4 linked regions of the Homo sapiens genome follow. The protein of the gene in region 1 purifies or fractionates together with the protein of each later gene. This does not show direct contact. Each region holds a gene or a part of one and is shown in the gene's direction. Other genes may lie near its edges. The genes, in order: CA14, THADA, TNPO2 and IQCB1.

The links.
Region 2: the proteins of CA14 (region 1) and THADA purify together in Homo sapiens (affinity purification with mass spectrometry; 3 studies listed by BioGRID and IntAct, with this or other methods). This does not show direct contact.
Region 3: the proteins of CA14 (region 1) and TNPO2 purify together in Homo sapiens (affinity purification with mass spectrometry; 3 studies listed by BioGRID and IntAct, with this or other methods). This does not show direct contact.
Region 4: the proteins of CA14 (region 1) and IQCB1 purify together in Homo sapiens (affinity purification with mass spectrometry; 3 studies listed by BioGRID and IntAct, with this or other methods). This does not show direct contact.

What each region holds. Positions count from the first base shown.
Region 1 is NC_000001.11:150,253,112-150,260,796, forward strand, and holds the start of CA14 (carbonic anhydrase 14 precursor), read left to right. Parts: upstream 1-4,662; 5' UTR 4,663-5,017; coding exon 5,018-5,072; intron 5,073-7,039; coding exon 7,040-7,060; coding exon of another isoform or gene 7,061-7,137; intron 7,138-7,685. UniProt on the Homo sapiens protein: Reversible hydration of carbon dioxide.
Region 2 is NC_000002.12:43,292,015-43,299,045, reverse strand, and holds part of THADA (tRNA (32-2'-O)-methyltransferase regulator THADA), read left to right. Parts: intron 1-5,832; coding exon 5,833-6,212; intron 6,213-6,823; coding exon 6,824-6,942; intron 6,943-7,031. UniProt on the Homo sapiens protein: Together with methyltransferase FTSJ1, methylates the 2'-O-ribose of nucleotides at position 32 of the anticodon loop of substrate tRNAs.
Region 3 is NC_000019.10:12,713,933-12,720,932, reverse strand, and holds part of TNPO2 (transportin-2), read left to right. Parts: coding exon 1-54; intron 55-1,596; coding exon 1,597-1,672; intron 1,673-1,754; coding exon 1,755-1,904; intron 1,905-5,193; coding exon 5,194-5,300; intron 5,301-5,394; coding exon 5,395-5,528; intron 5,529-5,608; coding exon 5,609-5,690; intron 5,691-5,763; coding exon 5,764-5,886; intron 5,887-5,993; coding exon 5,994-6,112; intron 6,113-7,000. UniProt on the Homo sapiens protein: Probably functions in nuclear protein import as nuclear transport receptor. Serves as receptor for nuclear localization signals (NLS) in cargo substrates.
Region 4 is NC_000003.12:121,769,230-121,776,060, reverse strand, and holds the end of IQCB1 (IQ calmodulin-binding motif-containing protein 1), read left to right. Parts: intron 1-3,347; coding exon 3,348-3,504; intron 3,505-5,486; coding exon 5,487-5,716; 3' UTR 5,717-6,300; downstream 6,301-6,831. UniProt on the Homo sapiens protein: Involved in ciliogenesis. The function in an early step in cilia formation depends on its association with CEP290/NPHP6.

The sequences.
Region 1 (7,685 bases):
TGGTGAAACCTTGTCTCTACAAAAAAATTAAAAAATTAGCTGGGAGTGGTGGCATGAACCTGTAGTCTCAGGTGCTTGGGAGCTGAGGTGGGAGGATCGCTTGAGCCCAGGAAGGGAAGGCTGCAGTGAGCCAAGATCACGCCACTGCACTCCAACCTGGACAACAGAGCCATGCCGTCTCAAAAGAAAAGAAAGTAAAAGAAAAACAGCCCGGCAGTTTTTTTACAAAGTTAAACATACGCTTCCCGTACAATCCAGCACTCAGTATCTATTTATTCCCACTCCTAGGTATTTACTCAAGAACAATAAAAACATATGTCTGCTCAAAGACCTGTACTCAAATACTTATAGTGCTTTTATTCATGGTGACTAGAAAGAAGTGGCTGCGGTGGCTCATGCTTATAATCTCAGCACTTTGGGAGGCCAAGCTGGGCAAATCACTCGAGCCCAGGAGTTCGAGACCAGCCTGGGAAACATGACAAAATTTTGTCTCTACAAAAACTAAGAAAATTTTTAAAACCTGCCAGTCATGGTGGCATGCGCATGTAGACCTAGCTACTCAGGAGGCTGAGAAGAGGATCATTTGAGTTTGAGGCTGAAGTGAGCTATGATTCTGCCACTGCACTCCAGCCTAGGGGACAGAGTGAGACCCTGCTTCCAAAAAAAAAGAGAGAGGCTGGGCGTGGTGGCTCACACCTGTAATCCCAGCACTTTGGGAGGCTGAGGCAGGCAGATCACCTGAGGTAGGGAGTTCAAGACTAGCCTGATCAACATGGAGAAACCCCGTCTCTACTAAAAATACCAAATTAGCCGGGCGTGGTGGCAAATGCCTGTAATCCCAGCTACTTGGGAGGCTGAGGCACGAGAATCACTTGAACCTGGGAGGCAGAGTTTACGGTGAGCCAAGATCATGCCATTGCACTGCAGCTTGGGCAACAGAGTGAGACTCTGTTTTTTTTTTTTTTTTGAGATGGAGTCTCGCTCTGTTGCCCGGGCTAGAGTGCAATGGCGCTATCTCGGCTCACTGCAAACTCCTCCTCCTGGGTTCAAGCGGTTCTCCTGCCTCAGCCTCCCGAGTAGCTGGGACTACAGGCGTGAGCCACCGCGCCCAGCTGAGACTGTACAAAAAAAAGAAGAGAGAGAGAGAGAGAGAAAGAGAAATGCTAATTTCTCTAATGCCAAATCTCTAATGTAGATTTGGACACACCCAGAACTATAGAATCGGGTACTATGGGGGTGAGGTCCAGAAATCTCTATTTATTTATTCTATTTTATCTTTGAGATAGAGTTTTGCTCTTGTCACCCAGGCTGGAGTGCGGTGGTGCAGTCTCGGCTCACCGCAACCTCTGCCTCCCAAGTTCAAGCGATTCTCCTGCCTTAGCCTCCCAAGTAGCTGGGATTACAGGCACCCGCTACCACACCTGGCTAATTTTTTTGTATTTTTGGTGGAGATGGGGTTTCGCCATATTAGCCAGGCTGGTCTCAAATTCCTGACCTCAGGTGATCTGCCCGCCTCGGCCTCTCAAAGTGCTGGGATTACAGACATGAGCCACTGCACCTGGCCAGAAATCTGTATTTTAATAAGCTTTCCAAGTTTAAAAAGCTTTCCAGGTGATTCTGATGCACATTGACATTTGAGAACCAATGGTGTAGGAGAAAGCTCACTGGTGCCTGTGTCCTTGTTCTGGTTTAGCCTAGCAGCTATATGACTAACCATGGCTAAATCCCTAAATCTCTCAAAACTCAGTTTTACAGGGTATAACAAGGGGTTTAGAATGATGCCTGAGGGCCCTTCTGCTCTAAAATTCTGTGAAAGACAGTAAATAAATGTTGCAATTACTAGATTCATTCAATCAACAGTTATGTACCAGGCAGCGTTCTGTTCATGGAATCAATGTATAACACAAAATTGCAACTGAAATAGTGTAACTTATCGCTTATAATTAAATGACTTGCAAATTTTCAGACCACAAACTTTTACCGGTCCTCAATTTACAAGATTCTCATACTACATTTGTTGTGTAATGTGAACTGGAAAACTAAGAAAATGATCCAAAGGGTCATTTTTTCCAAAATTACTTAATTCTTTTTTGTTTGTTTGTTTTTTCTTTTTTGTTTTTGTGACAGAGTCTCACTCTGTCACCCAGGCTGGAGTGCAGTGGAGCAATCTCAACTCACTGCAACCTCCCACTCCCGAGTTCAAGCAATTCTCCTGCCTCAGCCTCCTGCGTAGCTGGGATTACAGGCATGCACCACCACGCCTGGCTAATTTTTGTATTTTTAGTAGAGACGAGGTTTTGCTATGCTTTGGCCAGGCTGGTCTGGAACTCCTGGCCCACCTGCCTCGGCCTCCCAAAGTGCTGGCATTACAGGCGTGAGCCACCACGCCTCATCTCAGTCAAGTTTCAGTATATCTACAAGGACAGGAGATGGCGCCAGAAGGCAGTGAGATGCTTGGTTTTGGTTTTAACGGTTTTAGCCAATGCAAGCAAGGAAAGGGCTTGAGAGAGAGGTCAGAACTAAAACAAAGGTGCCAGAGTTTGAGTGGAAACTAAGACTGAGTGGGGAGAGGGAGCTGTGTCAGTTTTTTTTTTTTTAACTTACATATAAGGGTCCCCTTGACACCTACTCCAAATCAGCACAGCTAGAAAGCAACAAAAGAAATATCCACAGTAAAGCCAAAGATCAAGATAAAGTCAAGTGCCTGGAGGACGGCGCTCGCCTTCTGGCTCCCTCTGTCCTAGAAAGGAGGGCCTTTGTCGTCTGGGAAGCATAAGCACCTGGATGCGTTGCTCACCCAAGATCAGGGAAGTGTTGATTCCAGGCTAAGATATCTTTGTGAAACAATGTTCAGTTGCGTAGGCAAAATCCCAAAGCCCAGCAGCAGTGAAATACCTCCCAGAAGGAACCACATACACAAAGCATTTTAAATTAAAATTTAAAAATTCATAGACGAGCCAGGAGGTGGCGCCTGGCAAGACACGCTATCTGCCTTGGAAATCGGAATCTCAGCTCAGCGCTCCAGGGGAACTCTGTTCCGGCAGAGGTCATTCTGTTCAGACCTCTTCTTTCCTACTAAATCTCTTCTTTCATACCAAGATGTCTCTGCTTTCTTTTTTTGTTTCTTTGTGTTAAGTACCCTGATTCCCGGGAAATCTAATTTATACTTCAAGTCTTTTACTCTTCTTAGATGGGATGGATGGGGCTTTGGGGAACCTCAAAACATAAAACTTTCCTGAAGGGGACAAATAACTCAGAGGGTGATAGGAGAAGAAAAAGGGAAATGACATCAGCAAAATGGCTTGGCTTTGCAGATCAATCACAGGGGATAGAAAGGCACAGTGAGCTCCTGTCTCTGCAGGAGCTGATGATCCAGCACATGCATTATTCTGTTCATTTGGCTTTTATCCTGCTCCCTTATTTAGCTTCTGCTCCCTTTGTTTGGCTATTTATTGCTACTCGGCAGGAGCAAGGAGGGCAGAGGGAGCTTCAGATGGGTGCATCCTCCTGGCTGGTGCCTCTGGTGAAGAGCATGGAGGAGAAAGAGGTTTCAATGTCTGGCTTGAAAGTATCTGTGGGTTTCACATTCTCTAACGAGGGATTTAGGATGTACATTCCAATCGGGATTTCCAGTCCCGTGGGGAGCAAACATCAGTTCACATTCCTGAGACGTGCAGCCTCCATGCTCCACGGACGCAGCTCCTTGGTGGCAGGTTTCATTCAGTGCCACATGTCCTGCCTCAGCCCTTTGTTGGGCTGGAAGGAAGACCCTGAGCCCCTCTTCCATCTGGATCACATGGTCTCTCCAGACCCTCCCCTCTCTTTCTCTGGAAACCACCTTTTTCTGATGGTGGTAGTGATTGTTCCTAAAGTCTCTCCTTTCCTCCTGCCCTGGCCTCTCTGCCGGAGGTCAGTGTCCTCTTCAGTGACAAAAGCCGCCCTAGATCTGGGCTCCCTGGAGAGGGAGGTGGCTGGGTCTGGCAGTTACAGCCGCTGTCTCTCCATGGTGCTGCTACACCCCTCCCCCACTGGGCATACAAATGGGCTTTATCCAGCAAACAACGCTCCCTCCCCGCACTCCCCCCACCCCAGGCCACACAGGCACGTGGACCCAGGCCTCACCGTGGGAAGGGGGTGGTGGCAGGCACAGAAGAGATTGCTCCAGATGAGTTCTCCTTGCCTCACTTCTCTTCCTTAGAACTTAGGACACAACTCAGGTTTTAGTTATTGACTTCCTCCACCCCTCCCCTGCACCCTGAGTCCCTAATTCCTTCTTGTTATATATCTCCTAATTCTGGACTCTTCCCATTCCAGGGCAGCTCAGATTATGCAGGGAATTGGGAACAGGTACCCCCACCATCTGCCGCATACCACCCAGGGAGCTGCTCCTCAGAGGAGAAATCAGGCGGGGGGATGAAAATACAGTGTCCTTTTGAGGGGGCTGAGTTGAACCCCAAAGCCCCTTCCTTGACCCTGCCTGCTCCAGGGAACACCCATCTAAACAGCATCTGTGTGACTAGCAGAGGAAGGAAGAGCTCACCCCAGCTGGGCTCCTGAGCCAGGGCCAGGGCTCCAGTGAAACTTGCCGCGCTCCAGCTCCGAGTGGGGCCATCCTGCATGCCTAATTGGCTATTTAAGGAGCTGTTCACCAGCAGCCCAGGCAGCACCCCCGTCCCCACATACACCAGTTCAGAGCCACCTTAAAAGCAGGAGGCAGTTGTAAAGTCGCTGGCCAGCTAGTGGAGTGGAGACTGCAGAGGGAGATAAAGAGAGAGGGCAAAGAGGCAGCAAGAGATTTGTCCTGGGGATCCAGAAACCCATGATACCCTACTGAACACCGAATCCCCTGGAAGCCCACAGAGACAGAGACAGCAAGAGAAGCAGAGATAAATACACTCACGCCAGGAGCTCGCTCGCTCTCTCTCTCTCTCTCTCACTCCTCCCTCCCTCTCTCTCTGCCTGTCCTAGTCCTCTAGTCCTCAAATTCCCAGTCCCCTGCACCCCTTCCTGGGACACTATGTTGTTCTCCGCCCTCCTGCTGGAGGTGATTTGGATCCTGGCTGCAGATGGGGGTAGGTACAACTAAATGTCTGTGTGTGGATTTGTGCTGATGTTCACATGTCGCCAGGTGTGCTTAATGGGGGGAGGAGAGGTGTGAAAGGAAGCCTAGAGGCTGGAATAATAGGCTCAGAGATGAGGAAAAAAGAGTGGGGTGTGGAGGAGACCACTTCCCTTCTTTACCTTTTGTCTCTCCAGCCTTGTTGTTATTGGAGGTCGGGGAGAACTAGCGGCAGGCAGGCAGAGTGTGTACACATGCAAGTGCTGGAATCTCTTTGCAGGCTACAGATTTTCTCCAGAGCTCTTTCCCCCACTGCCCTGGTCCCAGGCAGGACTCCTGGACTTCTTTATTTACAAACTCCTCCAAATAGGGAGTCAAAGAGGCCTGGAGTAAAAAGATGGATAGATGGGGGTAGGGGGAAGAATACTTCCTGCCCAACTCAGACCCTGATCTCCAATTCATCCCCTTTTGGCCAAGATTCCCTCTTCATTCTGTGGAGCGACTAACTCCCCAGTTATCCTCTGAAAGTGGCAGTAAGAGTCAACATTTGTTTGACATTTTACAGTTTACAAAGGACTTTCAGGAGCTCCCAGGAGATGAGGAGGGATTCTTGGGAGAACAGGCTGAAGCGCTCCAGGAGTGTCCCCAGGAACTCCTAGACCTCATTTTTGTGTTTCCTGTGCCTAGCACAGTGTCCAGCACATACTAGGTGTGTAACTGAGGTTTGTGGAAAGAGCAGGGTGAGGTGGGTGTCCAGAGAGCAGAAGGCAAATGCAGAGAGGATGGGGGCAGGCAGGCAGCCAAATGGAGAGTCACAAATCTCATCTGAGGAGAAAGAAAAAAAGAGGGAAAGAGGAGGAAGAGACAGAATAAGTGTGTTGAGGCTCTGACCAGAGTGGACAGGCACCTTTACAGACCAGGGAGTTTGAGTTGTTGGGGGGTCCCACAGATATGGTAAAATGAGAGGCTGCCTCCAGCTCTCCCTTGGGCTAGCAGAATAGGTCAAGGATAAGAGCAGGACATCTCACAAGTTTGAGGAATTTAAGGGAATAAGAGACAGAGAGAGGAAGGAATTTAGGATTTTTCTCCAGAGTTTCTAGTAGTATGAATATTGCAGCATAAACCATGAAGGCCTTCGTTTTCTTCTTGAGGCAGTTTGGCCGTAGGGAGGGGCTGGACCTGCAGACCCTCAGCCTTTGCGTCAGACAGGACTGCACGAGAGCCTGGCATGTGACCCAGCTGGCAGCTCTCTTCTCTACACACAATGCTTCACTTTCATCCTGTCCCTGCCAGCCTGGCTGCCTGTGCCCACCCACCACCCTCAATCTAGAGTAGACCCTGCCCTGACTCCCACCCTTCCCTAACCATCTCAGAATGTAGGGAGCAGAGCCTCCTGGTGATGAGGAGTTTCCTCTAGAGCTAATGGGACCAGAAAAGAAGAATTTACATATGAGTTTACAGCTCAGTGGCTTTATTCATGCAATTTTTTAAAGCAAAGGAATAATCTCCCCTTCTCCCCTCAGTAGCACCCCCCAACACACACACACTCTAAACTCCTTTCTCCTCCCCGCTTTCTAGTCCCTATCCTTCCAACCCTCTGCCCACACCCTCACCCCACCCACCCCAATCTTCTAAGTGTTAGATTGACTTGGCACAGGTTACAGAAAAGAAAGGGTTGGGCCAATCGCACATTTGGATCCAGGTTAATTTTAGTCTCTGGGCTTTACCTCTTTTCCTTCCTCCTCCCCTTTTACTCGGCAGGCACCAACACAGCCTGGCTGGTGATTTTAAATAGGCCCCCCGACCTTTCCACAGAGGTGTCCGGTTTCAGGGCTTCCTTTGCAAAGTGCTGGAGCAGAGGGAGGAGAGACTGCAGAGAGGGAGGTGGAGCAGTACAGAATGCCAGAGGGAGGGGAGTGTGGAGGCCAGGGTTCTGCCCCAGGCTGCGCTGGCTGTAACCCAAACTATTCTGCCTTGCAGGTCAACACTGGACGTATGAGGGTGAGCAGATCTCAAGGCCTCCCGACAACCCTTTCACACTGGGACCTCCTCACCTGGCAGGAAGACACACTGTGCGGGTGGGAGGAGACTTCCTTTACCTTCTCACCCTAGCTCCTCCCTTCTGGATCTCCTCCTGCCTTGAGTTTCACATATATGGCTCCTAGATCCTGCTCTAATCATCAAATCCTACACCTCCTGATTTGGCAGAAAAGCTAGTTAAGTCCTCAGTAAATCGTGTAGGAGTGAGGGAGCTGGGGTGGAAAGGAAGCTGGGTGGGAACTCTGAGCTTAGCTGCCAGGTCTCCTTCTGGCTCCGTCTATCCTAATCCATCCTACCCCTAACCTGCATCTGAAATTGGGACAGAGCTGGAGGTCAGGGGTGAGGAAGAGGCTGGCAGGATAGTTTCTGACCCTGGGGGAGGTGGAACTCAGTTCCTATGAACTACTGATTAATGACTTAACCAAACTCAAGTTCATGATAAACGGTCAGTGTGAGAGCAAGAAGTGAATGATGAGAAGTCAGGATATCTGAATCCCAAGGCCACTTGATAGGGGCCTCCAGGAGACCGTATCTCTCTAGGTTATTTTTTTTTTTTTTTTTTTTTTTGACACAGAGTCTTGCTCTG
Region 2 (7,031 bases), on another chromosome or scaffold:
GCATCTGTGTGTTGACTGCATTAGGTCAGGTGTGGAATTTTCCACTTATGGCACCATTTCAACACGTAAAAAGTTTCCGATCTTAGAGCATTTTGGATTTCAGATTTTCAGATTAGAGATGCTCAACCTGTATATGCTTAGGAAATACTTAAAGAGTTAATACTCAAGTCACAGGCAGTGTAGGTCAAGAAGTCCCAAAGGAATGTCTACCTTCATTACACTCATCAGCATGCTTGCTCCCCATCTCCTCCTTCTTTGGGGTAGTGCCTTCATTCCCTGGCTTCCTGGTGATATCATCCCTTCTTAAGGCCCCAGACCAGAAAAATGGGTCTGGGTGTCCAACTCTCAAGTCCAGCAGACTATACTTACACTCAGCCTGGACTATATCCAGAACAGCCCAGATAGTTCTTCCTGTTGTTAATTACAATTTTTTTTTTTTAATTTTTTTTTTATTGATAATTCTTGGGTGTTTCTCACAGAGGGGGATTTGGCAGGGTCATGGGACAACAGTGGAGGGAAGGTCAGCAGATAAACAAGTGAACAAAGGTCTCTGGTTTTCCTAGGCAGAGGACCCTGCGGCCTTCCGCAGTGTTTGTGTCCCTGATTACTTGAGATTAGGGAGTGGTGATGACTCTTAACGAGCATGCTGCCTTCAAGCATCTGTTTAACAAAGCACATCTTGCACCGCCCTTAATCCATTTAACCCTGAGTGGACACAGCACATGTTTCAGAGAGCACAGGGTTGGGGGTAAGGTCACAGATCAACAGGATCCCAAGGCAGAGGAATTTTTCTTAGTGCAGAACAAAATGAAAAGTCTCCCATGTCTACTTCTTTCTACACAGACACGGCAACCATCCGATTTCTCAATCTTTTCCCCACCTTTCCCGCCTTTCTATTCCACAAAGCCGCCATTGTCATCCTGGCCCGTTCTCAATGAGCTGTTGGGCACACCTCCCAGACGGGGTGGTGGCCGGGCAGAGGGGCTCCTCACTTCCCAGTAGGGGCGGCCGGGGCGGCTGGCCGGGCCGGGGGGCTGACCCCCCCCACACTCCCTCCCGGACGGGGCGGCTGGCCGGGCGGGGGGCTGACCCCCCCACCTCCCTCCCGGATGGCGGCTGGCCGGGCAGAGGGGCTCCTCACTTCCCAGTAGGGGCGGCCGGGCAGAGGCGCCCCTCACCTCCCGGACGGGGCGGCTGGCCGGGCGGGGGGGCTGATCCCCCCCCACCTCCCTCCCGGACGGGGCGGCTGGCCGGGCGGGGGGCCGACCCCCCCACCTCCCTCCCGGACGGGGCGGCTGGCCGGGCGGGGGGCCGACCCCCCCACCTCCCTCCCGGACGGGGTGGCTGGCCGGGCTGAGGGGCTCCTCACTTCCCAGTAGGGGTGGCTGGGCAGAGGCGCCCCTCACCTCCCGGACGGGGGGGCTGGCCGGGCGGGGGGCTGACCCCCCCACCTCCCTCCCGGACGGCACGGCTGGCCAGGCGGGGGGCTGACCCCCCCACCTCCCTCCCGGACGGCACGGCTGGCCGGGCGGGGGGGCTGACCGCCCACCTCCCTCCCGGATGGGGCGGCTGGCCGGGCGGGGGGCTGACCCCCCCCCACCTCCCTCCCGGACGGGGTGGCTGCCGGGCGGAGACGCTCCTCACTTCCCAGATGGGGTGGCTGCCGGGCAGAGAGGCTCCTCACTTCTCAGACGGGGCAGCTGCCGGGCGGAGGGGCTCCTCACTTCTCAGACGGGGTGGTTGCCAGGCAGAGGGTCTCCTCACTTCTCAGACGGGGTGGCCGGGCAGAGACGCTCCTCACCTCCCAGACGGGGTCTCGGCCGGGCAGAGGCGCTCCTCACATCCCAGATGGGGCGGCGGGGCAGAGGCGCTCCCCACATCTCAGACGATGGGCGGCCGGGCAGAGACGCTCCTCACTTCCTAGATGTGATGGCGGCTGGGAAGAGGCGCTCCTCACTTCCTAGATGGGATGGCGGCCGGGCGGAGACGCTCCTCACTTTCCAGACTGGGCAGCCAGGCAGAGGGGCTCCTCACATCCCAGACGATGGGCGGCCAGGCAGAGACACTCCTCACTTCCCAGACGGGGTGGCGGCCGGGCAGAGGCTGCAATCTCGGCACTTTGGGAGGCCAAGGCAGGCGGCTGCTCCTTGCCCTCGGGCCCCGCGGGGCCCGTCCGCTCCTCCAGCCGCTGCCTCCCGGGCGGCCGTTAATTACAATTTTAAGAGCAGATTTCTGAGCCATATTTCTGACTGTGCCAAATAAATGAAATTCCTTTTGAATGTAATGCTGTCCTCTAGCAGCAGTGGGTAGGAAGGATAGGGAAATGGTACCTGGAGATGATAGTACTGTGCTCTTATTATTATTAGATTGTTATGAGATTCGGTTTTTAGACATTGAAACAGAGATGACACAGAGGTTGAAGATCCCAGCTGCCCAGGGTTTCCCCCACTGCTTTATAAAGATACTGCCTGGCTGGGCTCAGTGGCTCCCACCTGTAATCCCAGCACTTTGGGAGGCCGAGGCGGGCAGATCACCTGAGGTCAGGAGTTTGAGACCAGCCTGGGCAACATGGTGAAACCCTGTCTCTACTAAAAATACAAAAATTAGCTGGGTGTGGTGGCGTGTGCCTGTATTTCCAGCTACTCTGGAGGCTGAGACAGGAGAATTACTTGTACCGGGGAGGCGAAGGTTGCAGTGAGCCAATATTGTGCCACTGCACTCCAGCCTGGGTGACCGAGGGAGATTCTGTCTCCAAAAAAATAAAAAAATAAAAAGATGCCTCCTGGTGAGCTGGGAATTCTGCAGTGTCTGAGTTAAGAGTAGCGGTATGGCCGGGCACGGTGGCTCACGCTGTAATCCCAGCACTTTGGGAGGCTGAGGCGAGCAGATCACGAGGTCAGGAGTTCGAAACCAGCCTGTCCAGCATGGCAAAACCCTGTCTCTACTAAATATACAAAAATTAGCCAGGCGTGGTGGCATGCTCCTGTAATCCCAGCTACTCAGGAGGCTGAGGCAGGAGAATCACTTGAACCCTGGAGGTGGAGGTTGCAGTGAGCCGAGATCGCACCACTGCACTCCTGCCTGGGCGACAGAGCGAGACTCCATCTCAAAAAAAAAAAAAAAAAAACAGTAGAGGTTTGTCTGCAGCCCCAGATGGTGGCCTCCCTGGGGTCCCATCATGTTGGAGCCCAAGTCCAGTCCCCATTTTGCCCCCTGTGACAGACTTTGAAACAATTTGATGTGTTACATAAATACTCTATATTTTTAAATCTCGAATTATTGCAAGTCTATGCAAATTTTCAATTTCAAATAAATTTTTCTGTTACCTGAATGTTTTACATATGCATTATGTTTATGTTAGTTTTCTAGAAGTCAGCAGAGTTCTCTGAGTTATAATGAGATGATAAATATAAACGGTGTTTTATTAGCTATAAATGCGTATCACTTAAATGCTGTCTGGTAAGCCAATCCAGGATAAACTTGTTAACATCTTGGGTACAGTTGTCAGGATTTATCAGAGAATGCTATGAATATAATATCTAAATTTTGGCAAGGCATTTGGTGAAGTCTGTCATAAGTTCTTGTAGATAAAACTTCATGGACAGAATGATACAATTAAGAGGATTCATAAGTGGGGGATGACTCAAACCGAAGAGGGCTAGTTAATGAATTAGTGAGAGCCTGGAAGAGCGTTTGAGGCAAGGGCCAGCAGGGAGCCTGCTCACCAAAGGCCTCCACCCTCCAGCTTGCCCACATTTTTAGTAATTATTTGATTTTGGGCATTTAGGCATTCCTGTGAAATTGAAGTTTGCCAACTACTTTGTATGCGTTTTTGAGATAGGGTCTCACTTTGTCGCCCAGGCTGGAATGCAGTGTCAGCATCCTGGCTCACTGCATCCTCAACCTCCTGGGCTCAAGTGATCCCCCACCCAGCTGACTTTTTATTTTTTGTAGAAATAGATTTTCACAGTGTTGTCCAGGCTGGTCTCAAACTCCTGGGCTCAAGCAGTCCTCCCACCTTGGGCTCCCAAAATGTTGGGATTACAGGCATGAGCCACCACGCCCAGCTGGTTTACCCAATTTCTATTAGATGATGAACATGTGTGAAGAACTGGGTGCTGGGAGGTACCCGAGACTCCTACCCTAGTCCGCACCCTCATTCCCTAGTCCTGCCAGTTTTATCCCTTCAGTGTTTTTTTTTCTTTCTTTTTTGCCTTTTTAAATGATCACCTTGGCTTCAGACCTTCAGCGTTTCTTAAACCCACCTTCTCCTGATTCCTTCTGAACTTAAGGCCCTCGTCATTTATTTCTCTCCTGGACTACGGTGCAGTAGTGTTGTAACTGGTCTCCCTGCCTCTAATATTGCCTCCTCAACGATAAGAGCACTTCAGTGAAAATGGGCCCCTGACCTTACTGCTTAAAATAACCCCCCAGTGGCATTCCGTTGCATACAGAACTAGCTGCTTCACATTGTCTAGGAGGCTTTCTGTACTCTAGCCACATTTCTTCCCTAGCCTCATCTCCTGCCCTTTCCCACCTCAAATTTTATGCTCCAGTGTTATGGGATGGCCTGTAGTTCCCCACATGGTCCGTTCTGTTTCATGCCTTTGTTGAGCCTTTGCTCAGCTGGTTCCCCTGCCTTTGGTGGTGCTAACACATTGTCACCTGTCTTCCTCTTTGAGGCCTAGGTTATCATTTGTACCACTATATTGGAATTATGTGTTCATGCATTTCTCTTTCTCAAACTAGACTGACTATAAACTCCTTAAGGGCAGTGATCTTATTTAGCTCCTAGCACATAGTAAGCAGGCAATAAGTTTTTGGTTTTTTTATTTTTTTAATCAGAACTGAGAATATGAAAAGATCTCGGCAAATGAAAGGTAGACCATAAAACTTAACAGGAGGATAAAATTTAACAGGGATATACTTGGGCTTAAAATAAACAAAGAAAACACATCTTGGCTTAAGTACTGAGTACAAAGTGGGAGAAAGATGACTCACCACCATCAGTAGACCACGTCAAAAAAGAAGGGCTGTGGTTTCAGTTGACTTTGTGCTCCATATGAGTCAACAGTGTGATGCAACTCCAGTTCAGAACAGAGAAAGTAATAGTCCTGCGGGTCAAACCATGCAGGAGATTTGTGATCCAGCCTATTGGCCATCCTTTAAGAGAGGGTGAGGCATGTCCACAGGAAAGCAGCTAGAATAATGAGAGACAGTGACCCCATCATTTGAGGAAGGAAGTAGGAATGTTTCATCTGGAGAAGACAGAGGGGACACAAGAATTGTAATCAAATGTCTAAAGAGCTGTCATTGGGAGCCTCAAAATGTAGCATTAGGCCAGTGAGTAGAAACACAAAAAGAACTTTTTGACAATTAGATCTACTAACAATGGAATAAGCTGTCTCATGAGCTCCAGGGTACTGTAGGGTTCAACCAAGAGCTTCTGGGAAAGGGTGTTACAGAGGGGAGCTTCACCCCTGAAGGAAGTTTATACTAGATGTCCTCTTCTCATGGTCAGCTTTGAGGCTCGGTGATAAGAGGTCACTGAGTTCGTATTTATTGAATGTTGAGGAGGGGTGCCAGGAACGCATTTTCTAATAGTAATGCCTTTGTGCCCCTGTTGGAAAAATTATACATTACCTAAATGGAAATTGTTGTGGACTAGAAGTCTGAACCTTAGAGGGCCACTCACTTATGACAGTGTTTGAAATCTGCTTATGGGAGACATCTGATGGCCTCACGCAGTGGATTCAGTCTTCATTCTTTCATGTCCTTTTGTGGAAATTTAAAGTGATTATCTCTTTCCCTTTTGCTTTTTTTGCTTCTTAGTTCTGGAGAGTCTTGGCTTCTGGGAGGAAGTCAGAGGGATTATCTCAGGATCAGAGCTGATAACGGGATTCCCTTGGGCCTTCAAGGTGCCAGGCCTGCCCCAGTACCTCCAGAGCCTCACCAGACTAGCCATTGCTGCAGTGTGGGCCGCGGCAGCCAAGAGTGGAGAGCGGGAGACGAATGTCCCCATCTCTTTCTCTCAGCTGTTAGAATCTGCCTTCCCTGAAGTGCGCTCACTAACACTGGAAGCCCTCTTGGAAAAGTTCTTAGCAGCAGCCTCTGGACTTGGAGAGAAGGGCGTGCCACCCTTGCTGTGCAACATGGGAGAGAAGTTCTTATTGTTGGCCATGAAGGAAAATCACCCAGAATGCTTCTGCAAGGTAAAGTCTCCAACGTACTGACTGGCCCTTTACACTCCCCACATTCTTTTGTGAGCCACTGGAATGGTAGGATCATGAAGGCAAGATTGGGTTTAGGCTCTCCAGGGGCAATAGGAAGTAGATTCGGCAGCCAGTGGATAAGGACTCTCTTTTTATGGTGGTTGGCATGGCGTCATACCTGGTAGGGCACCAAGAAAAGCTTTTGATGATAGGAGTATTGATGGCAGAGATTAACCAAAGACAGAGCAAACCACTTTGGGATGTTTAGGAAACAGATCATTAAAAATTCACTGTAGAGTGTGTCAGAGGTAGTCTTTGCTGACATGGCTATTTCAGGGCAGTTGGCCACCTGGGAAGCATAATCAAAAGGAAAGGGCACTGGCCTAAAATCAGGGCATCTGGCTCCCATCCCAAGTCACTAGAGGCCCTCTGGTTAGTCATTGCATCACTCTGCCTCAGTCTCCCAAAGGTATTATGGGGGAAATAAGAAGTCAGTGGGAGCCTTTTGAAAGGTAGACCTCTTGTTGATACAATTGATTATCATGTAACATCTAGAGACATCTCCCTGAGTATTTATTTCTCTTTTTTGTGTGCGGATTTGGCTTACACAGATACTGAAAATTCTCCACTGCATGGACCCTGGTGAGTGGCTTCCCCAGACGGAGCACTGTGTCCATCTGACCCCAAAGGAGTTCTTGATCTGGACGATGGATATTGCTTCCAATGAAAGGTTTGCCCCCAAAACCTCCTGTGCAACCTTGGTAAGATGTATGGTCCCATCAGTCATTATGTAATGAACTTGCACACAATCCTGCCCTC
Region 3 (7,000 bases), on another chromosome or scaffold:
CTGCTCAAAGACTCACAGTCGCCCAACACAGCCACTCAGCGCATCGTGCAGGATGTATCCTTCCTTCCTTCCGGGGCTGGGGGAGCCGGGTAGATGCGTGCAGTTTCCAAAGGCCAGAGAGAGAAAGAGAGGGACTGACTCCCCTAGTCCCCAGATTTTTTCTGCTGTGCGGAGGATCTGCCCTGGACAGAGAAGGATTACAATTCCTGGGTCCCATTTCCAGAGCTGCGGGGATTGTTATAGAAAATGATGAAAATTCCTAATGTTCATCGAACGCTAGCATCTACTCCATTAACTATTAAAGTAGGCCCTGGCCCAACGGGGTGGCTCATGCCTGTAATCGGAGCACTTTGGTAGGCCGAAGCAGGTAGATCGCTTGGGCCCAGGAGTTTGAGACCAGCCTGGGCAACATAGGGAGACCCCATCTCTACAAAAAATACAAAAAATAGCTAGGTGTGGTGGCATGCACATGTAGTCCCAGCTACTTGGGAGGATGAGGTGGGAGGATGGCTAGAGCCCAGGAGGTAGAGGTTGTGGTGAGCTGAGATTGTGCCACTGTACTCCAGCCACCCTGGGCGACAGAGCCAGACCCTGTCTCAAAGAAAAGATATATAGGCCAGGCGCGGTGGTTCACGCCTGCAATCCCAGCACTTTGGGAGGCCGAGGCGGACGGATCACCTGAGGTCAGGAGTTTTGAGACCAGCCTGGCCAACATGGAGAAACCCTGTCTCTACTAAAAATACAAAAATTAAGCCAGGTGTGGTGGCAGAAGCCTGTAATCTCAGCTAATTGGGAGGCTGAGGCAGGAGAATCGCTTGAACCTGGGAGGCGGAGGTTGCAGTGAGCGGAGATCGTGCCACTGCACTCCAGCCTAAGTGACAGAGTGAGACTCTGTCTGAAAATAAATAAATAAATATTTAAACCATGAGCATGACTCACCCCAAAATTTGGATTCCCTCTTTTAAAAAAAAAAAAAAAGTCTTCATGGCCTGTTAGTGGGGATCGCTGACTAGTAGCTGCCACTTTAAGAGGAGTGGGATTCTCCTTCCCTCTCCTGCTCTGGCTGGGTCTTCAGGAGTGGATGGGAAACTCAGACATTTCCACCCAACTCCTTGTATGATTTTTTTTTTTTTCAAGATGGAGTCTTGCTCTGTCGCCCAGACTGGAATGCAGAGGCGCAATCTCGGCTCACTGCAACCTTCACCTGCTGGGTTCAAGCGATTCCCCTGCGTCAGCCTCCCAAGTAGTTGGGAATAGAGGCACGCACACATCATGCCCGGATAATTTTTTTGTATGTTTAGTAGAGATGGGGTTTCACCACGCTGGCCAGGCTAGTCTCGAACTCCTGACCTTGTGATCCACCCGCCTTGACCTCCCAAAAAGTGCTGGGATTACAGGCGTGAGCCACCGCGCCCGGCCCCTTATATGAATTTGACGTGTCTGAGGTGCTCTGTGTCATTGTGGGCTTATTAGGGAGCGGGATCCCCCAGGAGCTGGCAGCCTGGTCCCAGTGGTCAGAGATAGTGTCAGGTACATAATGAGGGGACCTGGCTGGGGGAAGGCCTCTGTCTTCCAAGTCCCTTAACAGCCTGGCAGAAACTCAAACAACTCAATCAGTTTCCTGACTTCAACAACTACCTGATTTTCGTCCTGACCAGACTCAAGTCAGAAGGTACGCCCTCTGCTCCCTTCCATGCGATCGGGACCCTGCTTTCTCCCCCTGGGCCCCTGAACCTCAGCCTTCCTCCTCCCAGATGAGCCAACGCGCTCTCTCAGTGGCCTCATCCTCAAGAACAACGTGAAGGCACACTATCAGAGCTTCCCACCCCCTGTGGCAGACTTCATCAAACAGGAGTGTCTCAACAACATTGGCGATGCCTCCTCGCTCATCCGAGCCACCATTGGTGAGAGGGGCAGCGGGGGTTGGCCTCTGAGGACACACTGAACTCTCACTTCTCAGCATGTTAAGTGTAGTGCTTCATGGAATGCTCTGGCACCCTCTATGGTAGTACTATTACTATTGCCATTTGATAGATGAGGAAGCTGAGGCGCTGAGCTATTAAGGGACCTGTCTGGGTAAGCAGCAGAAGTCAGAAACAGCTGAGGCAGTGCAGGGCCACGCTCTGGAACCACTCCCTCCTGAAACAGTCCTTCTTGGCTCTGAGACAGTCATGCAACATCTAGAATTTTGTGTTCGGCCTTGGGCTGAGTGCTAAGGGTATAGCAGTTAAAATAATGCAGGTATTCATGTTTCAGGTGCAACGGAATTAGGTTTTCAGCAGAGCCTTTTCTGACTCTTGGAAGGTGGCCTGAGGAAGTTACAGAAAGATGACTAAGAATAGGCTCACGCCTGTAATCCCAGCAACTTTGGGAGGTCAGGGTAGGCAAATCACCAGAGGTTGAGTTCAATACCAGCCTGGCCAACATGGTGAAACCCCGTCTCTACTTAAAATACAAAAAACTTAGCTGGCCAGGCATGGTGGCTCACACCTGTAATCCCAGCATTTTGGGAGGCTGAGGTGGGCGGATCACAAGGTCAGGAAATCAAGACCATCCTGGCCAATGTGGTGAAACCCCATCTCTACTAAAAATAGAAAAAATTAGCTGGGCGTGGTGGCACTCGCCTGTGGTCCCAGCTACTCGGGAGGCTGAGGCAGGAGAATCACTTGAACCCAGGAGTTGGAGGTTACAGTGAGGCGAGATGGCGCCACTGCACTCCAGCCTGGCAATACAACGAGACTCCATCTCAAAAAAAAAAAAATTAGCTGGGCGTGGTGGTGAACATCTATAATCCCAGCTACTCAGGAGGCTGAGGCAGGAGAATTGCTTGAACCCAGGAGGCAGAGGTTGCAGTGAGCCGAGATTGCGGCACTACACTCCAGCCTGGGCAACAGAGCAAGACTCCATCTCAAAAAAAACTAAATAAAATAAAAACAAAAAAAATGACTTCTGGCTGGGTGTGGTAACTCACGCCTATAGTCCTAGCACTTTGGGAGGCCAAGGCAGGCGGATCACTTGAGATCAGGAGTTGGAGACTAGCCTGGCCTACATGGTGAAATTCCGTTTCTACTGAAAATACAAAAAATTACTTGGGAATTACAGCTGGTGGGCACCTGTAATCCCAGCTACTCGAGAGGCTGAGGCAGGAGAATTGCTTGAGCCCGGGAGGCAGAGGTTGCAGTAAGCCAAGATAATGCCACTGTACTCTATCCTGGGCAACAGACTGAGATTCCATCTCAAAAATAAAAAGTAACTTTTAGTCCTGCAAAAACCCCCTCCCAGGCCAGTAGTAGGATGTGGACTTCCTGAGCTCATTCTATGTGCCAGGCTCTTTGCTAAGTCATTGAAACTTACTGATCCAGGCTGAGCACAGTGGCTCACGCCTCTAATCCCAGCACCTTGGGAGGCTGAGGCAGGTGGATCACCTGAGGTCAGGAGTTCGAGACCAGCCTGGCCAACATGGTGAAACTCTATCTCTACTAAAAATACAAAAATTTGCTGAGTGTGGCAGCGGGCACCTGTAATCCCAGCTGCTTCAGAGGCTGAGGCAGGGGAATTACCTGAACTCGGGAGGTGGAGGTTGCAGTGAGCCAAGATTGTGCCACTGCACTCCAGCCTGGACTACAGAGTGAGACTCCATCTCAAAAAAAAAAAAAAAAAAAAAGAGAGAAAAAGAAACCTACTGATAACCTTAGTTAGGAGGCTGGTTTTCTTTATCTCTTCTGAGGGCTGGAAGCACTGAGGCACACAGAATGAGGGGGTGTGGCTAAAGTTCCACAATCCTCACTGTGTACCTACCCATTGCAGGGAGCACCTTTCTCTCGTTGAGTTTCCACCCTTGGGAAACACTGCCATCTCATGGCAGCAAATACCATCTCTGCACTTAACAGAACCCATATCCAGCTCTGTCACCAGATATGTGCACTGTCCTGGCACCTCAGATGCCTGCTGTATGTAACTCCTGGATATCTAATAGGCAGTACAAGCATCCCTGCCACCTTCCTGCCCTTACCTCCTTTCCCTCTCTCATCATGCCTGTCCTTACGCCAGGCCTTTGCACCATAGAGTCCCCTGCCTCAGATGCCCTTTCCCCAGAAACCTGGATGATTCCTCCCTCGCCTCCTTCACCTCCTTCAGGCCTTGGCTCAGATATCAAGATGTCACCTCAACGAGGCCTGCTCTGGCCACCCAATTTAAAGTTGCTACCTTCACCTACAGCCCTTTCTCACCATCTTTTCTGCTGTATTTCCCCCCTTAGTCCTTGGCATGTGGCCCCTCCCAGTTGTTTGTTTTTGTTTTGTTTGTTTTTGAAATGGAGTCTTGCTCCATCCCAGGCTGGAGTGCTGTGGCGCGATCTCTGCTCACTGCAACCTCTGCCTCCCAGGTTCAAGTGATTCTCCTGCCTCGGCCTCCCAAGTAGCTGGGATTACTGGTGCCCCCCACCACACCCAGCTAATTTTTGTATTTTTAGTAGAGATGGGGTTTCACCATGTTGGCCAGGCTGGTTTCGAACTCCTGACCTCAAGTGATCCACCCACCTCGGTCCCCCAAAGTGCTGGGATTACAGGCATGAGCCACCCATGCACGGCCCCTCCCAGTTTTTTTTGCTAATTTATCTTTACTTCATAGCTTGCTTCCAGCTCCCAAGGGTGAGGATTTTGTGTTTTGCTCTGTGCTGTGCCTCAGGGCCTGGAACAGAGTTGACTCACAGTAAGGCTCAGGGTGCCTACTGAGTCAAGGAGTACCCTTCTACCTATGTCAAGGCCAGGAGCGGTGGCTCACGCCTGTAATCTCAGTGCTTTTGGAGGCCAAGGCAGGAGGATTGCTTGAGGCCAGGAGTTTTAGGCCAGCCTGGGCAACATAGTGAGATCCCATCTCTACAAACAATTTTAAAAATTAGTTGGGCGTGGTGGCATGTGCCTGCAGTCCCAGCTACTTAGGAGGCTGAGGCAGGAAGATGGCTTGAGGCCAGGAGTTTGAGGCTGCTGTGGACTATTGATTGTGCCACAGCAGTCCAGCCTGGGCAACAGAGCTAATTCTATCTCTTACAAAGAAAAAAAAAAGGAGGGGGGATGTAGAGGGCGTACATGGGCTAGGGAACAGAAAGGCAGCACTGGGGGTGTCCAGTGGGAGGGGGAGGTGCTAGGCAGCCCCTGCCCAGCCTCAGGCAGCGTCCTTTCCCGGCCGCCCCAGGCATTCTCATCACCACCATCGCTTCCAAGGGTGAGCTGCAGATGTGGCCCGAGCTGCTGCCCCAGCTCTGCAACCTGCTTAACTCGGAGGATTACAACACTTGTGAGGTAGGCAAGAAGCCATGGATGGCCAGAGCGAGTACTGGGGGGCTGGGACCACCACCCACCACCCACGTTTGTCTCTCTGCCCCTCTGCACTCAGGGAGCCTTTGGAGCCCTGCAGAAGATCTGTGAAGACTCATCAGAGCTTCTGGACAGTGACGCCCTCAACAGGCCCCTCAACATCATGATCCCCAAGTTCCTGCAGTTCTTCAAGCACTGCAGTCCCAAGATCCGGTGGGTGCAGCTCCCTGGGGGCTTCCAGGGAGCCTGGAGTGGGCAGGGTCAGGGTGACCCACGTGTCTGCTCCCCGCCAGGTCCCACGCCATCGCCTGCGTGAACCAGTTCATCATGGACCGGGCCCAGGCGCTGATGGACAATATTGACACCTTCATCGAGGTGGGCCGCTGGGCTGGGGGTGGGCAGGGCGAGGACTGAGGGCCCCTACAACTGACCCTGTTCCTCCCTGCAGCACCTATTTGCCCTGGCTGTGGATGATGACCCCGAGGTGCGGAAGAATGTGTGCCGTGCCCTGGTGATGCTTCTGGAAGTGCGGATTGACAGGCTCATCCCCCACATGCACAGCATCATCCAGGTGTGCATGGTCAAGGCCAGCCCAGGCGGGCAGGCAGGGGGCCGGTGGCAGGGGTCAGGGAGCCACCCCCAGCCAGGCCAGGCCTCAGCTTCTCCCCCCTACCACAGTACATGCTGCAGAGGACCCAGGACCATGATGAGAACGTTGCCCTTGAGGCCTGTGAGTTCTGGCTGACGCTGGCCGAGCAGCCCATCTGCAAGGAAGTCCTGGCCTCCCATCTGGTCCAGTGAGTGCTGCTGCTGCCCACTGTCCTACCCCAGCTTCGACCCCTTGCTATGCCTCTGCCTTCCCTTCTGGTCACCTGCTGTGCTTCTCTCAGTCCACATCCTTGTCAGTTTACATTCAGTATATATTTATGTGTAAGTGGTAAGAATGCCACTTTTTGAAGACTTCAAAATTAGGTAACTGATAGGTGGAAAGAAATGAAAAATCAATGGCCACATGTGGTGGCTGACACCTGTAATCCTAGCACTTTGGGAGGCCGAGGCGGGCAGATCACAAGGTCAGAAGATCGAGACCAGCCTGGCTAACACGGTGAAACCCCATTTCTACTAAAAATATAAAAAAATAGCTGGGCGTGGTGGCAGGCGCCTGTAGTCCCAGCTGCTTGGGAGGGTGAGGCAGGAGAATTGCTTGAACCCAGGAGGCTGAGGTTGTAGTGAGCCAAGGTCGTGCCACTGCACTCCAGCCTGGGTGACAGAGCAAAACTCCGTCTCAAAAAAAAAAAAAAAAGAAATGAAAAATCAACAAAGGCTTCAGGGGTATGGCTGTATCCAGGAGCTCAAAGGATGTGAAAGGCATCTTTGTGGTCTCAGATCTGCTTCCCTTGTGTTGGCTTCATTCTTAGGCACAACCTTCCCTCTGGGTAGTGCTGTAGCCTTCTGTGCCCTTCCAGCTTAGGAACTTCAGAGTAAAGAAATTTTCGACCAGTGTTTCCAACAAAAGTCCTAAAACTGACCCTCCTTGACAAACTTGGATTGCTTGCCTCTCTCCAAATCATTTTTTTCTTTTTTATTTTGAGACAAGGTTTTGCTCTGTCATCCACGCTGGAGTGGAGTGTCAAAATCATGGCTCACTGCAGCCTTGACCTCCCAGCTGAAGCAATCCTCCTACC
Region 4 (6,831 bases), on another chromosome or scaffold:
GAAAAAGAAAAAAAAACGTGGATGAATCTCAAAATAATTATGCTAAATGAAAGAAGCCAGACAGAGTAGAATACATTCTTTATGATTCCCTTTATGTAAATTCTAAAAATATAAACCAATCTATAGTAACATTAAATAGATAAGTAGTTGCTTGGGATAAGTAGTTGGTGGATGGGTAGGATGAGGATAAGGGTTTACAAAAGGAAACAAGGAAACGTAGTGATGAACTAGGTATGTGTATGTCAAAGCTTAGCAAATTGTACCCTTTCAATATTTGTTGTTTAGTGTATGTTATTTTTACGTCAATAAAGCTATATTTTTTAAAAGGTTGTTTTAACCTAAATGCTTAAAAAAAAATTTAGGGGTCCTGAGATTTTAAAAATAATCAGCCTGGCCACCAATAAAACATGGCCAATGAATCTCTTCTTTTTAATTATTATTATACTTTAAGTTCTGGGATACATGTGCAGAACATGCAGGTTTGTTACATAGGTATACATGTGCCATGGGTGGTTTGGGACCCATCAACCTGTCATCTACATTAGGTTTTTCTCCTAATGCTATCCCTCCCTTAGTTCCCTACCCCACGATAGGCCCCAGTGTGTGATGTTCCCCTCCCTGCGTCCACGTGTTCTCATTGTTCAACTTCCACTTATGGTTGAGAACATGCAGTGTTTGGTTTTCTGTTCTTGTATTAGTTTGCTGAGAATGATGGTTTCCAGCTTCATCCATGTCTCTGCAAAGGACATAAACTCATCCTTTTTTATGGCTGCATAGTATTCCATGGTGTATATGGCCAGTGAATCTCTTAAGTGCTGATCAATCATATTAGCAACTCCTCCCTTAGCCAAACACCAGAACCGAGTTGGAGAGAGGGGCAGAACCACAACTGAAAGATTTTTCCTGTGAGCAGAGGTAGAATGAAGACAGACAGAAGCATGCCTCCTCTCCAACAAACAGATAATCAGTTCCTAAGCTCTGTAGAGAGGACTATATTGCTTTTAACAGTTTTAATCATTTACAAATTTAATCACCTTTATAAAAATTACATACCCAAGCCCCACACACCCCAAGAAATTCTGATACAGTAAGTTTTGTGTGGCCTCATGTATCTGTATTTTTAAAATTTATTTATTTTCAGGGTGGTAAAATAGATAAAATATAAAAATTACCATTTTAACTATGTTTAAATGTAGTTTGGTAGCATTAAGTACATTCATATTGTTTGTGCAAGCTTCACCACCATCCCATCTTCAGAACTTTTTTCATCTTGCAGAATGGAAACTCTGCATCCTTTAAACACTAACTCACCATTCCCTCACTACCCAGCTTCTGGCAACCACCATTCTACTTTCTGTCTCCATGAATTTGCCTACTCTAAGTACCTCATGAGTAGAATCATACTTCATTGTTTCAGTTAGTATAATGTCTTCAAGGTTCATGTTTTAGCATATGTCGGAATTTTCTACTTTTAAAGGCTGAATAATATTCCATTATATATACTACATTTTGTTTATCCAAGGAACACTTGGGTTCCGTCCACCCTTTGGCTATTGTGAATAATGCTACTGTGACCATGTGTGTACAAATATCTGTGTGTGTACTTGCTTTCAATTCTTTTGGGTGAGTATCCGAAATGGAAATGCTAGATTGTGTGCTAATTCTTTTTAAAAATTTTTTTGAGGAACTGCCATACTGTTTTCCATAGTGGCTGTACCATTTTACATTTCTACCAGTCACACACAGGGTTCCAGTTTCTGTACATCCTTGTCAACATTAGTTATTTTTGTTGTAGTCATTGTTTTTGATAGCAGCTAATAGATATGAAGTTGTATCTTATGGTTTGAACTTGCACTTTCCTAATTAGTGATTTTGAGCATCTTTTCATGTGTTTATTGGCCGTTTCTTTATCTTTTTTGCAGAAATGTCTGTTCAAGTCATTTGTTTATTTTTTTTTCCACAGGGTTATATTTTGTTCATTTTTTAATCAGGTTGTTTTTTGTAGAGTTTTGGGAGTTCTTTATATATTATGGAGATTAATCCCTTAGATGTATGATTTGCAAACATTTTATGCCATTCTGTGGACTGCCAGTTAACTTTCTTGATAGTGATCTTTGGTGCACCAAGGTTTTTAATTTTGATGAAGTTCATTTTGTCTGGTTTTTGTTGTTGTTTTTTTTTTCCTGTGCTTTGGTGTCGTATGAAGAAATCATCACCAAAACCAATGTCATGATGCTTTTCCTGTGTTTTCTTCTAGGAGTTTTACAGTTTTAGCTCTTATGTTTAGGTCTTTGATCTCTCTTTTTCTAATACACTATATGTAGTTCTGATGCATGCTCCTGTTTTTCTTTTTTTAAAGTGCTTCTTTAGCCATACTCTAGTGCAGCTGTTTAAGATCCTGTGGCTGAGAAGTAAGGTTTTAGTGGAACAGGGTCATATCCAGGATAGGAACAGGAATATTTGAGAAAGCTGTGGTGTCAGGTTCTTTATCACCTCCAAAGTTAAGATTATTTCATCCTTGCCCAAACTAATCAGTTAAGTTCCCCTTAAATTAGCTGACTAGCCAAAAGAACATGGTCCTTTGGATGATTTTGTCCCTTGTTCTGTGGATCCAGAAGCAGTTACAACATATGGCTTGGATAAGTTTGGGAGTGAGAATGGGATAAGAAGTAAAACAAAGAAACAAAGGGATTGGCGTTGTTACACCTGTTATAGGCCAGTGTCTTTTTTTTTTTTTTTTTTTTTTTAAGGCAGAGTCTTGCTCTGTTGCCTAGGCTGGAGAGCAATGGCGCAATCTCGGCTCATTGCAAACTCTGCCTCCCAGGTTCAAGTAATTCTCCCGCCTCAGCCTCCCGAGTAGCTGGGATTACAGGCACCCACCATCATGCCTGGCTAATTTTTGTAGAGATGGGTTTTCACCGTGTTGGCCAGGCTGGTCTTGAACTCCTGACCTCAGGTGATCCACCCACCTTGGCCTCCCAGAGTGCTGGGATTACAGGCGTGAGCCACCACACCCGGCCCCAGGCCAGTGTCTTTACGAAACCATTTGTAATTTTTCACTGTGATCTCTCAAGCTTATCTCTTCTCCCATAATTCCACAGTGTCTGAGAAAGTAAAGTATAGGCACATACAAAAAAGAAAGACAAAAAACTTCTCCACCATTATTTTTATCTAAAACTTTTAAGAGACTAATTAATACTTGCATAAGAGTACAAGATAGACATCAATCATAAGATTCAATTGATAAAATGAGAGACAGCTAAGCAGTCTAAAACCTCTGCTAAGTGGTTGGGTACTTTGATACCTATGTCCTCTCTGTGACAGGTTTTTCTGTCCTGTGTTTCCAGGGCTCTCCAATGTCAGATGTGGTCAGTAGGGAGCTCCATGCCCAAGCTCAAGAACGACTGCAACACTACTTTATGGGCAGGGCCCTAGAAGAGCGAGCCCAGCAGCACAGAGAAGCTCTGATAGCACAGATCAGCACCAACGTTGAACAGCTAATGAGTATGTGCTCATTTTACTTTCGTTCTCTAAAAGGAACAACCTATGCGAGGTTTGTGACATCCAAAACCTTTAGAAGGAAACCATTACTAAGCATCTTTAGCTCATCCCCTAACCTCAGGAAATTTCTACATAGATCAGACCAGCACACAATGTTTTCAAATGATGCGGATTTTATAACCACCTTCTTACCTGTTTCCCCAAGCCTTGCCATCATTCATATGTGTCACCCCAAAGTTATTAATTTCAGATGCTGAGCCCTACTAGCCATCTTTTACTAAGTAATCTGAAAAGCTTTTGGTCATATTTTGTAAGTAGATGATGACAATAGTTACAGTGCCATTCACTTGTAGAGCATTTTATAAATTTTTTTTTATTATTATTTTGAGACGGAGTCTTGCTCTGTTGCCAGGCTGGAGTGCAGTGGTGTGATCTTGGCTCACTGCAACCTCCGCCTCCCACGTTCAAGCGATTCTCCTGCCTCAGCCTCCCCGAGTAGCTGGGACTACAGGTGCGCACCACCACGCCCAGCTAATTTTTGTAGTTTTAGTAGAGACGGAGTTTCACCATGTTGGCCAGGATGGTCTCGATCTCTTGACCTTGTGACCTGCCTACCTCGGCCTCCCAAAGTGCTGGGATTATAGGCGTGAGCCACCGTGCCTAGCCTATAATTTTTAATGAAGCACTTTACAAAAATGAATTCATCATAACCACTGATCCATTTAATGAGAGATCCCATCCATGAAGCCCCTGTGTTTCAGTCAGCATCTTGGATTTCTTTAGTATATGTAAACAGAAAGGACCAGTGTTTTCTATTTAATGGCCACTACTTGGTAATTTTATATTCTTAAATTGGATAAATGGCTGAAACTGAGCCTCTCATCTATAGGATGAGGTTCTATTAAAGTTTCTATTCTTTAAATAAACCATCTTGGCTGGGTGAGGTGGCTCATGCCTCTAATCCCAGCACTTTGGGAGGCCGAAGTGGGCGGATCACGAGGTCAGGAGTTCGAGACCAGCATGACCAACATGGTGAAACCCCATCTCTACTGAAAATACAAAAATTAGCTGGGCATGGTGGCGGGTGCCTGTAATCCCAGCTACTCAGGAGGCTGAGGCAGGAGAATTGCTTGAACCCGGGAGGCGGAGGTTGTAGTAAGCAGAGATCGCGCTACTGCACTCCAGCCTAGGTGACAGAGTGAGACTTTGTCTCAAAAAATAATAATATAAATAAATAAGCCATCTTACAAAAATCTACATCTTTTTAAATTCCTTTAAACACAGAAATGGCCGGGCACGGTGGCTCACGCCTGTAATCCCAACATTTTGGGAGGCCGAGGTAGGTGGATCATCTGAGGTCAGGAGTTCGAGACCAGCCTGACCAACATGGTGAAACGCCCGTCTCTACTAAAAATACAAAATTAGCTGGGCATGGTGGCGCACGCCTGTAATCCCAGCTACTCAGGAGGCTGAGGTAGGAGAATTGCTTGAACCCAGGAGGCGGAGGTTGCAGTGAGCCGAGATCGTGCCATGGCATTCCAGCCTGGGCAACAAGAGCAAAACTCTGTCTCAAAAAAAAACAGAAATGGGCTGAATATGTTGACACATGGCTGTAATCCCAACACTTAGGGAAGCTGAGGCAGAAGGATTGCTTGAGTCCAGGAGTTTGAGACCAGCCTGGGCAGCATAGTGAGATCTCTACAAAAAAAGAAAAAACATTAGCTGGGTGTGGTGGCATAGTCCCAGGTACTTAGGAAGCTGAGGTGGGAGAATCACTTGAGCCCAGGAGGTTGAGGCTGCAGTGAGCCGTGATCTTGCTACTGCACTCCAGCTTAGGCAATAGAGCAAGACCCTTTCTCAAAAGTAGTACATTCAGAGTTGGAATGCTGTTTCTGCCTGCAGAGTTACAGCTCTGTAGCTTCCAAGTTCCTACCTGCTTGGCATAGGACTCTTCTGCTCATCTGTTTATTTTCTGTCCACTACAGAGGCACCAAGTCTGAAGGAGGCAGAAGGGAAAGAACCTGAGCTCTTCCTAAGTAGATCCAGGCCTGTGGCAGCCAAGGCCAAGCAGGCCCATCTCACAACCCTGAAGCACATACAAGCACCCTGGTGGAAGAAGCTTGGAGAAGAATCTGGAGATGAGATTGATGTTCCAAAGGATGAGCTTAGTATAGAATTAGAAAATTTATTCATTGGTGGAACCAAACCACCTTAGTGAGTAACCCTAAGAATTGACACAAATCTCATATTTTAGGAGATTATATTGGTTCTGCCTCTGGCATGCTGGTAGACTAGGGCCATCCTAACTTATTATTTTCCAGAGGTTCTCCTCCAGACAAGACCTGCAGTAAGCAAAGAGTTATATTCTACCTCTCTCTCAATTTTCTTTTTCTTTTCTCTGTATCCTCATCGTTAGCCACACACAGATTTGTGTGGCTTTTATTGTAGAACTAAACTTAGCATAGTGTTCTGTTGTTTACATGAAGTGTGTTTTTCTTTGGTTTCTTCTGTTTTCCAACTAAATATTTTTTTCTAAATAAATATTTTCAACAATTGATTTGAAAAATTTGTCAGGATTATTTCAACTTTTCACATTTGTTATCTGAAATTCCTATTTCCTGTTAACATAGGAGGTGTGTGCAGACTTTATTAATGTGAGGAAAAGAAATGCTCAATTGAAGGACATTTCCCTGTTTTCTATAAAGCAATGGTTGAACTCATTTTCTATTTTGTTATTTCTAAAAGGAACTGCATACCAAAAAAATGCATTCTTTCTATTAAACTGTGAGAACTACATAATGTACTGTTTCCCTTTTTGTCTTTTCTCCTAGGAATCTCAAAGCTAAATATAATGTTTAATTTTTGTTACAATCCTAGGTACCTTTATGATTATTTGGTTCCAACCTAATACTTTTCAGTTTCCCTGTTTACTTTAAATATGTTTTAATACCATAACATTGAAGCCACTTCAATTTGTGTTTGTAACAATATGGAATTTAAGTTAAAATCAATTAACAAATCATGACTCCATATCATAAAGAATCTGGAAGATGCTCTTTGTAAAATGAGTGAAAATACCAGTATTTCTGGATGTAAAGACCAAATTGTATAATATTGCGCAATCTCTAATGTTAACTTTAGTAAAATTCTAATCAAAATTCCTATATTTGTACTTATAATTGGAAAAGAAATGTAGAAAAATTATGTAAGAGTGTTGCTCCCAATTTAGCAAAGAAAATGCCAGATAATCTAGAACAATAATTTTTCTTGAGCCCATTAGATAGCTGAGGACTCAAGCCAACCATGTAAACTGGGATAGGAGTCTGTATC